Homo sapiens: one gene and its partner. The protein of the gene in region 1 interacts with the protein of each later gene in a pairwise test. Each region holds a gene or a part of one and is shown on either strand. Other genes may lie near its edges.

Region 1 (7,022 bases):
CAGTTAGTGATGTTTCTTAGATACGGGTCCAAATTAGTACACAAAGCACTTCCTCATTCCTCTCTTACGGCTGCATAGCAGTCCACTGAATGGGTGAGCTATGATCTATTTAACCTATTCTTTATTGATGGACATTTGGTTTTGTATATACATTTGTAATTCTGTATAGATTACAAATCACCATCCAAAGAAATTGTACTGGTTTATTCTCCTACAATGTGTGAGAGTTGGGTAATTACTTAATCTCAATATGTGAGAGTTTAGGCAGTTACCTAATCTCTCTGAGTCTCAGTTTCTCTATCTGCAAAATAAACAAAACAGTGTTGACAGTATCTATTTCTCGGAATTATTGTGGAGATTACTGAGATGATGCCTGTAAAGTATTTGGCATGTAGGAGTTGGTGCTCTCCAAATAAGGATATGATTTTATTTGTATTTGTGAGCTACTGTCCCAGCCAGGTAAATGGATATGATGAGACCTCCTTGCCAGACCGGGTTTCTCTGATTAGAACGAGGAGCAGATGTTGCAGGAAATTAGCAACTGATATCAGAAGAGCCGTGGGCATTCTCTTGCCAGAGGTGCCCTGTCTCCAGGGCGCCTCAGTCCCCCCCCATATGTCTTCTGCTCCCAGGTCCATCCAAGCTGAATGATCGCGCTGACTCAAGAAGAAGCCTTTGGGACCAAGGAAACTTTCCCCTGATCATCAAGAATCTTAAGATAGAAGACTCAGATACTTACATCTGTGAAGTGGAGGACCAGAAGGAGGAGGTGCAATTGCTAGTGTTCGGATGTGAGTGGGGCAGGTGGGGATGAGGATACCTCCTGCCTGGTTCCCTTCCCCACTACTCCCACCCCTGCACCAAATCCAGCCTGAGCTGGTGATACCGCAGCAGCCCCAAGAGGACCAGGCTGTCAAACTGGCCTCCAAATGTCTTAAAACCCTTCTTGATCAGGTGAGGGATGCTGGTGGGCGGAGGAGGGAAGAGGCCTTGGGAAAAGGAAAGAAAAGGGAAGGAGGCAAGGGAAGGAGGGAGAGAGACTGGGGAAGAGAGGATGAGGGGAGAGGAGGAAAGAAGAGAGAGAGGAGGGGAGAGGGAAACCCTATCTTGGCTGGGGGTGCGCAGCTGGGTGCTGGGAGGAAGGAGATGTTGGGACGGCGATAATGGAGAGATGTTGTTGGTTTCCTGTTGTCTGCCCTTCTCCTTGGGGATGGTATGTGTGTGACACAGCTGGCCTTTCCCTCCACAGTGACTGCCAACTCTGACACCCACCTGCTTCAGGGGCAGAGCCTGACCCTGACCTTGGAGAGCCCCCCTGGTAGTAGCCCCTCAGTGCAATGTAGGAGTCCAAGGGGTAAAAACATACAGGGGGGGAAGACCCTCTCCGTGTCTCAGCTGGAGCTCCAGGATAGTGGCACCTGGACATGCACTGTCTTGCAGAACCAGAAGAAGGTGGAGTTCAAAATAGACATCGTGGTGCTAGGTAAGGGAAGCCCCTCTTCGCGCAGTCTCCTCCCTGCCCCAGGGGCTGACAGCCCCTCCCTCTGCTCTGACTGCCCTGTTTCTGGTTCTGGTGCTGGGAGGTCAGGAGTGGAGAAGACTAGGTCCCCTAGAGCTGAGGCCTGTCTTGAAGGACTCACTGGGGCCCTCATCCTCAGGGGGCTGATTGGCAGCCACCCCTCAGTGTGGTGGACATGGAGAAAGGAAAGGCTGGGGAAGGTAAGGATGCTAGAGGCCCGAGTCTCCTTTGGAGGCCCCAAAGGAGGAATGTCAGGGAGCTTACTTTCTTTGTTGCCTCAGCTCCACACCCCTACCAAGTTGGCAAATCCACTTACTCAGGGACACTAACACCAGTAAGCCAACCCTGATGATGTTCTATGTTGTACCTCTGGACCTCTAAGCCAGGCCACTGTGGGGAGACCAAGGTCCTACCCCAGATCCTGTCCCCTGGGTGCTTATGTGACTTAAGGTAGACATAAGGTAGTGTGCCAGTTTAGTGCATGTACGCTGATTGAAATCCTGGTTCTGCCACAACCATGTGACCTTGGGTGAGTTACTAAACCTCTCTGCACCTTGGTTTCAGCCTCTGTGAAATGGGGATGATGTTAACTGCCATAGTGACTACCTCGTATTAAGTTGAGGACTGATATACGTAAGGCACTGAAAATGGTGCCTGGCACAGAGTAAGCCCTAGTTAAGTGTTCGCTGTTATTTTGTGAAGGGTGATGAATACGCCTCTAAGGAGTGGAGGCCAAATGGCTTCTGTGGTCCAGGAATCCTAAGGACAGCAAGGATCCCCTGTGGCTGGGCTGCTCTGTGATGGCTTCCGGGAGGAGGGAGGTGGCCTGCTGTAGGAAAATGCTGGGTGGAAGAAGGGAGAGAAGGCTGGAGAGGTAGGAAGGAACTGAAGTATCTGAAGTGACAAGGTGGGTGTCTGGACTCGTCGGGTCCCCTTCCATCTCCCTGCTGCCTCCACATGCCAACCCCACTCGTGCACCCTCATCTTCCTATCTCCTCACCCAGGGTCTCTCCCTTCCCACCTCCAGCTTTCCAGAAGGCCTCCAGCATAGTCTATAAGAAAGAGGGGGAACAGGTGGAGTTCTCCTTCCCACTCGCCTTTACAGTTGAAAAGCTGACGGGCAGTGGCGAGCTGTGGTGGCAGGCGGAGAGGGCTTCCTCCTCCAAGTCTTGGATCACCTTTGACCTGAAGAACAAGGAAGTGTCTGTAAAACGGGTTACCCAGGACCCTAAGCTCCAGATGGGCAAGAAGCTCCCGCTCCACCTCACCCTGCCCCAGGCCTTGCCTCAGTATGCTGGCTCTGGAAACCTCACCCTGGCCCTTGAAGCGAAAACAGGAAAGTTGCATCAGGAAGTGAACCTGGTGGTGATGAGAGGTGAGGGGCCAGGCCAGGGAGGGGTGGGCAGGGGAAGGAGTTGGAGGGGCCTGGCCCAGGGCTCCCTCTGAGGCAAGCCAGGCCCCAAGAGGGGATGCCTAGGCCCTGGTCACCTGGATGAAGTGAGGGAGGGCCCTCTGGGTTTGGGGCTGGTTTTGAACTGAGACATCCATGAGCCAGCCTGGGGCTGGCTTCACTGAAGATCCCCAAAGCACTTGGGCTAAGAACCAGGGTTCCAGTTCTTCCTATAACCAACCCTCTGTGACCCTGGCTAAGCCCCCTCCCACTGCAGGCCTGCTTCCTGACCTGTCTAATAAGGATAATGAAATCTGCTCTCTGTGTGATAGTAATGATGATAATGTCAAGCTCCAAATTGAGTTTCTGGCTTCCTTATCTCCTTATCATCATAACGACTCTGCAAATAGTAATGGCTAACACTTGATGCTCAGCACGTGTCGGGCCCCATCCAAACACTTTACATGTATGCCTGCCTTTAGTACTATCTGGGTGCAGGTTGTTAAGTCACTTGCCCAGAGACACACAGCTGCTAAGCAGTGGAGCTGGGATTCAAATCCAATACCACTGGACCCCAAACGCTGTTTTTCCTCGTAGGACTGCATGAAAACCTGCTCTAAAAGGCTAAAAGAAGGTCACCCATATAGAGTATCATTTTAATTGTTCTACTGAATCTCAGGCCTTTGATCTCAGCCTCTCGTTCCTCTGCAGCCACTCAGCTCCAGAAAAATTTGACCTGTGAGGTGTGGGGACCCACCTCCCCTAAGCTGATGCTGAGTTTGAAACTGGAGAACAAGGAGGCAAAGGTCTCGAAGCGGGAGAAGGCGGTGTGGGTGCTGAACCCTGAGGCGGGGATGTGGCAGTGTCTGCTGAGTGACTCGGGACAGGTCCTGCTGGAATCCAACATCAAGGGTAAGGACCCAGGTTCCAAGGCCTCTGCCTCCTGGGCTGCGGGACCTTCCTGTGGTTGGCAGAGACCACCCAGAGTCCCGGCCTCCCAATGCCTGAGTTGGGGGGTTATGGGTATGGTGTCCTCTGTGGTCCCAGGGTGCTTTGGAGGCCCCAAAAGGAGGCATAGAAGTGATGAAGTGAGGTGGGTTGTGGTCCTGGGCTCTAGGCTGCCAGTTGTAATTCTACAAGTTCCCACTCCCTCAGGTCTACAGCCTAGGGATGGGGTCCACCTGACCGAGAGCCCCCCTCCCTGGCTCCTGGCTTTTCTCCAAATCCAGACGCACTTACACACACACTCACACACATACACTCTCACACACATGCACACACTCCCATACACTCTCACACACGCACACACATCACTCACACACTCGCACACACTCATACACACACTACACACACATCCACACTCACACCCACACTCTCACCCCATGTACTCACACCCATGCACTCACACACTGTCACACACTCATACACACACATGTACTCACACATGCATGCACACACACACTTACACATTCACGCACATACTCTCACCCACACACTGTCGTACACGTACACTCACACACTTATACACTCACATCCGCACACGCATTATTCACACATGTGCACACACGCGCGCGCACATGCATGCAGTCACGCACACACATTCATACACGCACACAGGCACACATTCACACACATGCACACACGCACACACATTCACACATGGACTCACACGCGCACACGCGCGCACACACACACATTCACACCATTCACACACGCACACACATGCACACACTCACACATGCACACACACATGCACTCACACACACAGCCCAGGAGCCAGACCACAGCTTCTCTCTCTCCAGAGTGCCCTGGATATGGATATGCCCAAACATAAAACCGATTCCCCAGCACTGGCGGCCTTTGAGAGCCCCCAGGCACCCCTCCCCTCTCCCCCAACCCCAGGGTCAAACCAGAGACTGGCCAGGAGGGATTGCAGGGCAGTCCTCAGTCCCCTGGCCCGTGGAGGAGGGCGGTGCATTGAGCACATTTCTCTCCCTTGCAGTTCTGCCCACATGGTCCACCCCGGTGCAGCCAATGGCCCTGATTGTGCTGGGGGGCGTCGCCGGCCTCCTGCTTTTCATTGGGCTAGGCATCTTCTTCTGTGTCAGGTGCCGGCACCGAAGGGTGAGTAACCCCACACCTGGTCCCCACAAGGCCCTCAAACCCCTGAGTCCTCTACCAGGAGATCCTGTATATGGGAACTGATTTTGGCCCAGCTCCCTCTGCCCACTCGTAAGTTCCCTTGCTGCCCTGTCCCAGATCCCACTCAAGGGAGAGACAGGAAGGAGCAGAGAGTTAATTCCAGGATAGATGGCCTGGGCCATGTAACTGCTTCTCCTGTCGCAGCTTCCCCCACTCCCCCCACCAAGGGGCACCTCCCTTCTGGAGGCCTGGGACCCTCGTGACTCCCTTTCTTGTCCCTGGACAGCGCCAAGCAGAGCGGATGTCTCAGATCAAGAGACTCCTCAGTGAGAAGAAGACCTGCCAGTGTCCTCAGTAAGGATCTGGGAGGAGGGGTTGAGAGAGGGGAAAGGGGGAGGGGGAGGGAGTTAGAGAGGAGGGGGAGGAAGGGGAGCAAAGGGGGGCAGGAAGGGAGGATGGAGAGGAGGAAGGAGTTGAGGAGGAAGAGCTGGGAGGGGTGGAGGTGAGGAGATGGGGGCTAAAGGGGTGTGGTGGAGAGGATAGAGGGGTGGGAAAAGATGGCCAGGAGCTAGAAGGAGGCAGAAGTGGGAGGATGGAGCTGAAGGAGCAGCAGGCCAGGAAAGGCCCTGCTGGAAAGCCACTGGAGCTGTGCTGCGCTGGAAAGGCCATTGGAGGTGCTAGAACGCAAAGGGGTTGCAGTGGGGACAGACCTGCTCCCCTTCTTCTTTGTTCCTGCAGCCGGTTTCAGAAGACATGTAGCCCCATTTGAGGCACGAGGCCAGGCAGATCCCACTTGCAGCCTCCCCAGGTGTCTGCCCCGCGTTTCCTGCCTGCGGACCAGATGAATGTAGCAGATCCCCAGCCTCTGGCCTCCTGTTCGCCTCCTCTACAATTTGCCATTGTTTCTCCTGGGTTAGGCCCCGGCTTCACTGGTTGAGTGTTGCTCTCTAGTTTCCAGAGGCTTAATCACACCGTCCTCCACGCCATTTCCTTTTCCTTCAAGCCTAGCCCTTCTCTCATTATTTCTCTCTGACCCTCTCCCCACTGCTCATTTGGATCCCAGGGGAGTGTTCAGGGCCAGCCCTGGCTGGCATGGAGGGTGAGGCTGGGTGTCTGGAAGCATGGAGCATGGGACTGTTCTTTTACAAGACAGGACCCTGGGACCACAGAGGGCAGGAACTTGCACAAAATCACACAGCCAAGCCAGTCAAGGATGGATGCAGATCCAGAGGTTTCTGGCAGCCAGTACCTCCTGCCCCATGCTGCCCGCTTCTCACCCTATGTGGGTGGGACCACAGACTCACATCCTGACCTTGCACAAACAGCCCCTCTGGACACAGCCCCATGTACACGGCCTCAAGGGATGTCTCACATCCTCTGTCTATTTGAGACTTAGAAAAATCCTACAAGGCTGGCAGTGACAGAACTAAGATGATCATCTCCAGTTTATAGACCAGAACCAGAGCTCAGAGAGGCTAGATGATTGATTACCAAGTGCCGGACTAGCAAGTGCTGGAGTCGGGACTAACCCAGGTCCCTTGTCCCAAGTTCCACTGCTGCCTCTTGAATGCAGGGACAAATGCCACACGGCTCTCACCAGTGGCTAGTGGTGGGTACTCAATGTGTACTTTTGGGTTCACAGAAGCACAGCACCCATGGGAAGGGTCCATCTCAGAGAATTTACGAGCAGGGATGAAGGCCTCCCTGTCTAAAATCCCTCCTTCATCCCCCGCTGGTGGCAGAATCTGTTACCAGAGGACAAAGCCTTTGGCTCTTCTAATCAGAGCGCAAGCTGGGAGCACAGGCACTGCAGGAGAGAATGCCCAGTGACCAGTCACTGACCCTGTGCAGAACCTCCTGGAAGCGAGCTTTGCTGGGAGAGGGGGTAGCTAGCCTGAGAGGGAACCCTCTAAGGGACCTCAAAGGTGATTGTGCCAGGCTCTGCGCCTGCCCCACACCCTCCCTTACCCT
Region 2 (7,296 bases), on another chromosome or scaffold:
GGATGGAGACAACAGCATGGTGAGTTCCCAACCCACCCACGATGATAGGTGTCTGAGGCAGAAGGTAAAGAGGCTGTCACCTGGTGGGTGTCATAAGACTCAAGTGTCATTGTTGAGGCACATGGGTAACAAAGCGTGGCACTGGATGGGGGTAGATTCTTCCTATTTCTGTGAGGATCAGGGGGACTCCCTGGCTCTCCTGCTAAAGGTGGCTCTAGGGACAGGAAGAGTGTACTTCTTGACAGGGATGTCAGAGCACTGATGGTGACAATCAGTGTGACACTGCTCACATGACTGAACAACCGAGAAGAGCCCGACTGTCTACTGAACAACGGGAAGAGCCCGACTGTCAATGACGGAGCTCTGTTAAATATAGTTAAGGCTATTTTGTTGAATGAATGAAGCCAGACAGGAAAGAGGACAGTATCTTTAATCCATTTATAGAAGTTAAAGACAGGCTTATTTAATCTCTATGAAGACAGAGTGGCCCTTACCTCTGGGTGGAGCAAAAGGCACCTTCTGAAGTGATAGGGATGTTCCTTATCATCTTGATCCGGAGTGGTAGTTACATGCATGTGTGCATATCAAAACTCACCAAGCTGTACCACTAAGTGTGTTCTTCCTCAATAAAAATAATAAAGAACTACACTTATAAAGAATTTTTTAATAATATAGGAAAATGTCTACACTATAATCTTTAGCTAAAAAAAAAAAAAAAAGAAGCCGCCTACAGAATGGTATATGCATGAGAACAATTAATCGAAAAGTGCATGGGAAAAGTCAGGATTGAAACATCATGTTTTAAAAGACATTGTTTTGATACTGTGAGAATGTACCTAAGTTTTTCCTTTTTTCTGTTTTTCCCAATTTTATACAATGAGCATGTGTTGGTTTTATAATTAGACATTTTGTTTGTTTGGTTTGGTTTTGAGACACAGCTTGCTGTCACCCAGGTTGGAGTGCAATGGCCCAATCTTGGTTCACTGCAACCTCCATCTCCTGGGTTCAAGAGATTCTCCCACTTCAGCCTCCTGAGTAGCTGGGACTATAGGGGCGCACCACCACATCCAGCTAATTTTGTGTATTTTTAGTAGAGATGGGGTTTCACCATGCTGGCCAGGTTGGTCTCAAACTCCTGACCTCAAGTTATCCACTCGCCTTGGCTTCCCAAAGTGCTGGGATTATAGGCATGAGCCACCGCACTTGGCCTAGACATTTGTTTTTAAAAATAAAAGATTCATTTGCTCTTTTTACAGCCCGTCTCACTGTTGACTGATATTGACCAGGAGTCAACTCAGGCCCCAGGGATTTTCACAACAGCTGCTGTATGGCAGGGTTTCTGCTCACTGTGCTCATGTAGTTGGCCCTTGCACCCAAAGTGAATAATTAACATTCTCCCCATCCTGTTGACGATGCTCTGAAAATATGGTCCAGAAATGGTGTGAGCAAGGAGACAGCAAAGCAATGCTTGGAACATAGGTGCAGTGACTAGACATGGGGCAGCTGTTTAAAGACAAAAAGGCCCCAAAAAGGAGGGATGGCACGAAACACCCTCCAATATGGGCATGGAGTCTAGAGTGACAAAGTGATCAAAAGTTCATTTCCTATGGGGTGTCCGAATGTACTTAATAATAAAAAGAGAACAAGAGCCATGCAAACTGAGAGGGACAAAGTAGAAAGAGTAGCAGACACCAAGCAACTAAGTCACAGCATGATAAGCTGCTAGCTTGTTGTCATTATTGTATCCAGAACAACATTTCATTTAAATGCTGAAGAATTTCCCATGGGTCCCCACTTTCTTGTGAATCCTTGGGCTGAACCCCCCTGTCCTGAGTGGTTACTAGAACACACCTCTGGACCAGAAACACAAAAGTGGAGTAACGCACACTGCAAAGCTGTGCTTCCTTGTTTCAGCCTGTGAATCCTCACCTTGTTTCCCATCTAGCCTATATTTTTCAAACTAACTTGGCCATAGAATCATGTAGTATTTAGGGTGGAAGCTGCCCCAGGTCTAGCACGTCATTTAACAGATGAGGAAATGGAAGCTTGGGCAGTGGAAGTATCTTGCCGAGGTCACACAGCAAGTCAGCAGCACAGCGTGTGTGACTCCGAGCCTGCTCCGCTAGCCCACATTGCCCTCTGGGGGTGAGTATGTCTTCACATCCTCCAATACCCTAATGACAGACAAACAGAACATGGCAAAGCCTCAGCTCTGCATGGTGAAAGTAAGAACCAGCAATTGCCACAAACAGAAATACAGTGTTGGTCCGGCAGCCTCCGGGGGTTCTGCACAAGTGGATTACCAGTGAATACAAGGCTATCTATCTTTCGAAAAACCAAAGTTGTATTTATGCTATCTATTTTCTATAAAATTTTATATTAATTTATTTGTTACCTATTTTTGAACTCTTTCAAAAGCACACTTTATATTTCCCTGCTTAAACAGTCCCCCGAGGGTGGGTGCCCAAAAGGCTCTACACTTGTTATCATTCCCTCTCCACCACAGGCATATTGAGTAAGTTTGTATTTGGGTTTTTTTAAAACCTCCACTCTACAGTTAAGAAAACTAAGGCACAGAGCTTCAATAATTTGGTCAGAGCCAAGTAGCAGTAATGAAGCTGGAGGTTAAACCCAGCAGCATGACTGCAGTTCTTAATCAATGCCTTTTGAATTGCACATATGGGATGAACTAGAACATTTTCTCGATGATTCGCTGTCCTTGTTATGATTATGTTACTGAGCTCTGTTGTAGCACAGACATATGTCCCTATATGGGGCGGGGGTGGGGGTGTCTTGATCGCTGGGCTATTTCTATACTGTTCTGGCTTTTCCCAAGCAGTCATTTCTTTCTATTCTCCAAGCACCAGCAATTAGCTTTACCTTTTCAGCTTCTAGTTTGCTGAAACTAATCTGCTATAGACAGAGACTCCGGTGAACCAATTTTATTAGGATTTGATCAAATAAACTCTCTCTGACAAAGGACTGCTGAAAGAGTAACTAAGAGTTTGATGTTTACTGAGTGCATAGTATGTGCTAGATGCTGGCCGTGGATGCCTCATAGAATCCTCCCAACAACTCATGAAATGACTACTGTCATTCAGCCCAATACCCAGACGAGAAAGCTGAGGGTAAGACAGGTTTCAAGCTTGGCAGTCTGACTACAGAGGCCACTGGCTTAGCCCCTGGGTTAGTCTGCCTCTGTAGGATTGGGGGCACGTAATTTTGCTGTTTGGGGTCTCATTTGCCTTCTTAGAGATCACAAGCCAAAGCTTTTTATTCTAGAGCCAAGGTCACGGAAGCCCAGAGGGCATCTTGTGGCTCGGGAGTAGCTCTCTGCTGTCTTCTCAGCTCTGCTGACAATACTTGAGATTTTCAGATGTCACCAACCGCCAAGAGAGCTTGATATGACTGTATATAGTATAGTCATAAAGAACCTGAACTTGACCATATACTTATGTCATGTGGAAAATTTCTCATAGCTTCAGATAGATTATATCTGGAGTGAAGAATCCTGCCACCTATGTATCTGGCATAGTGTGAGTCCTCATAAATGCTTACTGGTTTGAAGGGCAACAAAATAGTGAACAGAGTGAAAATCCCCACTAAGATCCTGGGTCCAGAAAAAGATGGGAAACCTGTTTAGCTCACCCGTGAGCCCATAGTTAAAACTCTTTAGACAACAGGTTGTTTCCGTTTACAGAGAACAATAATATTGGGTGGTGAGCATCTGTGTGGGGGTTGGGGTGGGATAGGGGATACGGGGAGAGTGGAGAAAAAGGGGACACAGGGTTAATGTGAAGTCCAGGATCCCCCTCTACATTTAAAGTTGGTTTAAGTTGGCTTTAATTAATAGCAACTCTTAAGATAATCAGAATTTTCTTAACCTTTTAGCCTTACTGTTGAAAAGCCCTGTGATCTTGTACAAATCATTTGCTTCTTGGATAGTAATTTCTTTTACTAAAATGTGGGCTTTTGACTAGATGAATGTAAATGTTCTTCTAGCTCTGATATCCTTTATTCTTTATATTTTCTAACAGATTCTGTGTAGTGGGATGAGCAGAGAACAAAAACAAAATAATCCAGTGAGAAAAGCCCGTAAATAAACCTTCAGACCAGAGATCTATTCTCTAGCTTATTTTAAGCTCAACTTAAAAAGAAGAACTGTTCTCTGATTCTTTTCGCCTTCAATACACTTAATGATTTAACTCCACCCTCCTTCAAAAGAAACAGCATTTCCTACTTTTATACTGTCTATATGATTGATTTGCACAGCTCATCTGGCCAGAAGAGCTGAGACATCCGTTCCCCTACAAGAAACTCTCCCCGGTAAGTAACCTCTCAGCTGCTTGGCCTGTTAGTTAGCTTCTGAGATGAGTAAAAGACTTTACAGGAAACCCATAGAAGACATTTGGCAAACACCAAGTGCTCATACAATTATCTTAAAATATAATCTTTAAGATAAGGAAAGGGTCACAGTTTGGAATGAGTTTCAGACGGTTATAACATCAAAGATACAAAACATGATTGTGAGTGAAAGACTTTAAAGGGAGCAATAGTATTTTAATAACTAACAATCCTTACCTCTCAAAAGAAAGATTTGCAGAGAGATGAGTCTTAGCTGAAATCTTGAAATCTTATCTTCTGCTAAGGAGAACTAAACCCTCTCCAGTGAGATGCCTTCTGAATATGTGCCCACAAGAAGTTGTGTCTAAGTCTGGTTCTCTTTTTTCTTTTTCCTCCAGACAAGAGGGAAGCCTAAAAATGGTCAAAATTAATATTAAATTACAAACGCCAAATAAAATTTTCCTCTAATATATCAGTTTCATGGCACAGTTAGTATATAATTCTTTATGGTTCAAAATTAAAAATGAGCTTTTCTAGGGGCTTCTCTCAGCTGCCTAGTCTAAGGTGCAGGGAGTTTGAGACTCACAGGGTTTAATAAGAGAAAATTCTCAGCTAGAGCAGCTGAACTTAAATAGACTAGGCAAGACAGCTGGTTATAAGACTAAACTACCCAGAATGCATGACATTCATCTGTGGTGGCAGACGAAACATTTTTTATTATATTATTTCTTGGGTATGTATGACAACTCTTAATTGTGGCAACTCAGAAACTACAAACACAAACTTCACAGAAAATGTGAGGATTTTACAATTGGCTGTTGTCATCTATGACCTTCCCTGGGACTTGGGCACCCGGCCATTTCACTCTGACTACATCATGTCACCAAACATCTGATGGTCTTGCCTTTTAATTCTCTTTTCGAGGACTGAGAGGGAGGGTAGCATGGTAGTTAAGAGTGCAGGCTTCCCGCATTCAAAATCGGTTGCTTACTAGCTGTGTGGCTTTGAGCAAGTTACTCACCCTCTCTGTGCTTCAAGGTCCTTGTCTGCAAAATGTGAAAAATATTTCCTGCCTCATAAGGTTGCCCTAAGGATTAAATGAATGAATGGGTATGATGCTTAGAACAGTGATTGGCATCCAGTATGTGCCCTCGAGGCCTCTTAATTATTACTGGCTTGCTCATAGTGCATGTTCTTTGTGGGCTAACTCTAGCGTCAATAAAAATGTTAAGACTGAGTTGCAGCCGGGCATGGTGGCTCATGCCTGTAATCCCAGCATTCTAGGAGGCTGAGGCAGGAGGATCGCTTGAGCCCAGGAGTTCGAGACCAGCCTGGGCAACATAGTGTGATCTTGTATCTATAAAAATAAACAAAATTAGCTTGGTGTGGTGGCGCCTGTAGTCCCCAGCCACTTGGAGGGGTGAGGTGAGAGGATTGCTTGAGCCCGGGATGGTCCAGGCTGCAGTGAGCCATGATCGTGCCACTGCACTCCAGCCTGGGCGACAGAGTGAGACCCTGTCTCACAACAACAACAACAACAACAAAAAGGCTGAGCTGCACCATGCTTGACCCAGTTTCTTAAAATTGTTGTCAAAGCTTCATTCACTCCATGGTGCTATAGAGCACAAGATTTTATTTGGTGAGATGGTGCTTTCATGAATTCCCCCAACAGAGCCAAGCTCTCCATCTAGTGGACAGGGAAGCTAGCAGCAAACCTTCCCTTCACTACAAAACTTCATTGCTTGGCCAAAAAGAGAGTTAATTCAATGTAGACATCTATGTAGGCAATTAAAAACCTATTGATGTATAAAACAGTTTGCATTCATGGAGGGCAACTAAATACATTCTAGGACTTTATAAAAGATCACTTTTTATTTATGCACAGGGTGGAACAAGATGGATTATCAAGTGTCAAGTCCAATCTATGACATCAATTATTATACATCGGAGCCCTGCCAAAAAATCAATGTGAAGCAAATCGCAGCCCGCCTCCTGCCTCCGCTCTACTCACTGGTGTTCATCTTTGGTTTTGTGGGCAACATGCTGGTCATCCTCATCCTGATAAACTGCAAAAGGCTGAAGAGCATGACTGACATCTACCTGCTCAACCTGGCCATCTCTGACCTGTTTTTCCTTCTTACTGTCCCCTTCTGGGCTCACTATGCTGCCGCCCAGTGGGACTTTGGAAATACAATGTGTCAACTCTTGACAGGGCTCTATTTTATAGGCTTCTTCTCTGGAATCTTCTTCATCATCCTCCTGACAATCGATAGGTACCTGGCTGTCGTCCATGCTGTGTTTGCTTTAAAAGCCAGGACGGTCACCTTTGGGGTGGTGACAAGTGTGATCACTTGGGTGGTGGCTGTGTTTGCGTCTCTCCCAGGAATCATCTTTACCAGATCTCAAAAAGAAGGTCTTCATTACACCTGCAGCTCTCATTTTCCATACAGTCAGTATCAATTCTGGAAGAATTTCCAGACATTAAAGATAGTCATCTTGGGGCTGGTCCTGCCGCTGCTTGTCATGGTCATCTGCTACTCGGGAATCCTAAAAACTCTGCTTCGGTGTCGAAATGAGAAGAAGAGGCACAGGGCTGTGAGGCTTATCTTCACCATCATGATTGTTTATTTTCTCTTCTGGGCTCCCTACAACATTGTCCTTCTCCTGAACACCTTCCAGGAATTCTTTGGCCTGAATAATTGCAGTAGCTCTAACAGGTTGGACCAAGCTATGCAGGTGACAGAGACTCTTGGGATGACGCACTGCTGCATCAACCCCATCATCTATGCCTTTGTCGGGGAGAAGTTCAGAAACTACCTCTTAGTCTTCTTCCAAAAGCACATTGCCAAACGCTTCTGCAAATGCTGTTCTATTTTCCAGCAAGAGGCTCCCGAGCGAGCAAGCTCAGTTTACACCCGATCCACTGGGGAGCAGGAAATATCTGTGGGCTTG

What was found.
Region 2: the proteins of CD4 (region 1) and CCR5 interact in binary tests that used the Homo sapiens proteins (3 or more experiments, as listed by UniProt).

The regions. Positions count from the first base shown.
Region 1 is NC_000012.12:6,813,510-6,820,531, forward strand, and holds part of CD4 (T-cell surface glycoprotein CD4 isoform 1 precursor), read left to right. Parts: intron 1-632; coding exon 633-791; exon of another isoform or gene 792-954; intron 955-1,249; coding exon 1,250-1,483; intron 1,484-2,221; exon of another isoform or gene 2,222-2,476; coding exon of another isoform or gene 2,477-2,546; coding exon 2,547-2,894; intron 2,895-3,620; coding exon 3,621-3,821; intron 3,822-4,911; coding exon 4,912-5,033; intron 5,034-5,337; coding exon 5,338-5,405; intron 5,406-5,789; coding exon 5,790-5,820; 3' UTR 5,821-7,022. UniProt on the Homo sapiens protein: Integral membrane glycoprotein that plays an essential role in the immune response and serves multiple functions in responses against both external and internal offenses.
Region 2 is NC_000003.12:46,366,663-46,373,958, forward strand, and holds the start of CCR5 (C-C chemokine receptor type 5), read left to right. Parts: upstream 1-4,283; 5' UTR 4,284-4,326; intron 4,327-4,581; exon of another isoform or gene 4,582-4,755; intron 4,756-6,229; 5' UTR 6,230-6,240; coding exon 6,241-7,296. UniProt on the Homo sapiens protein: Receptor for a number of inflammatory CC-chemokines including CCL3/MIP-1-alpha, CCL4/MIP-1-beta and RANTES and subsequently transduces a signal by increasing the intracellular calcium ion level.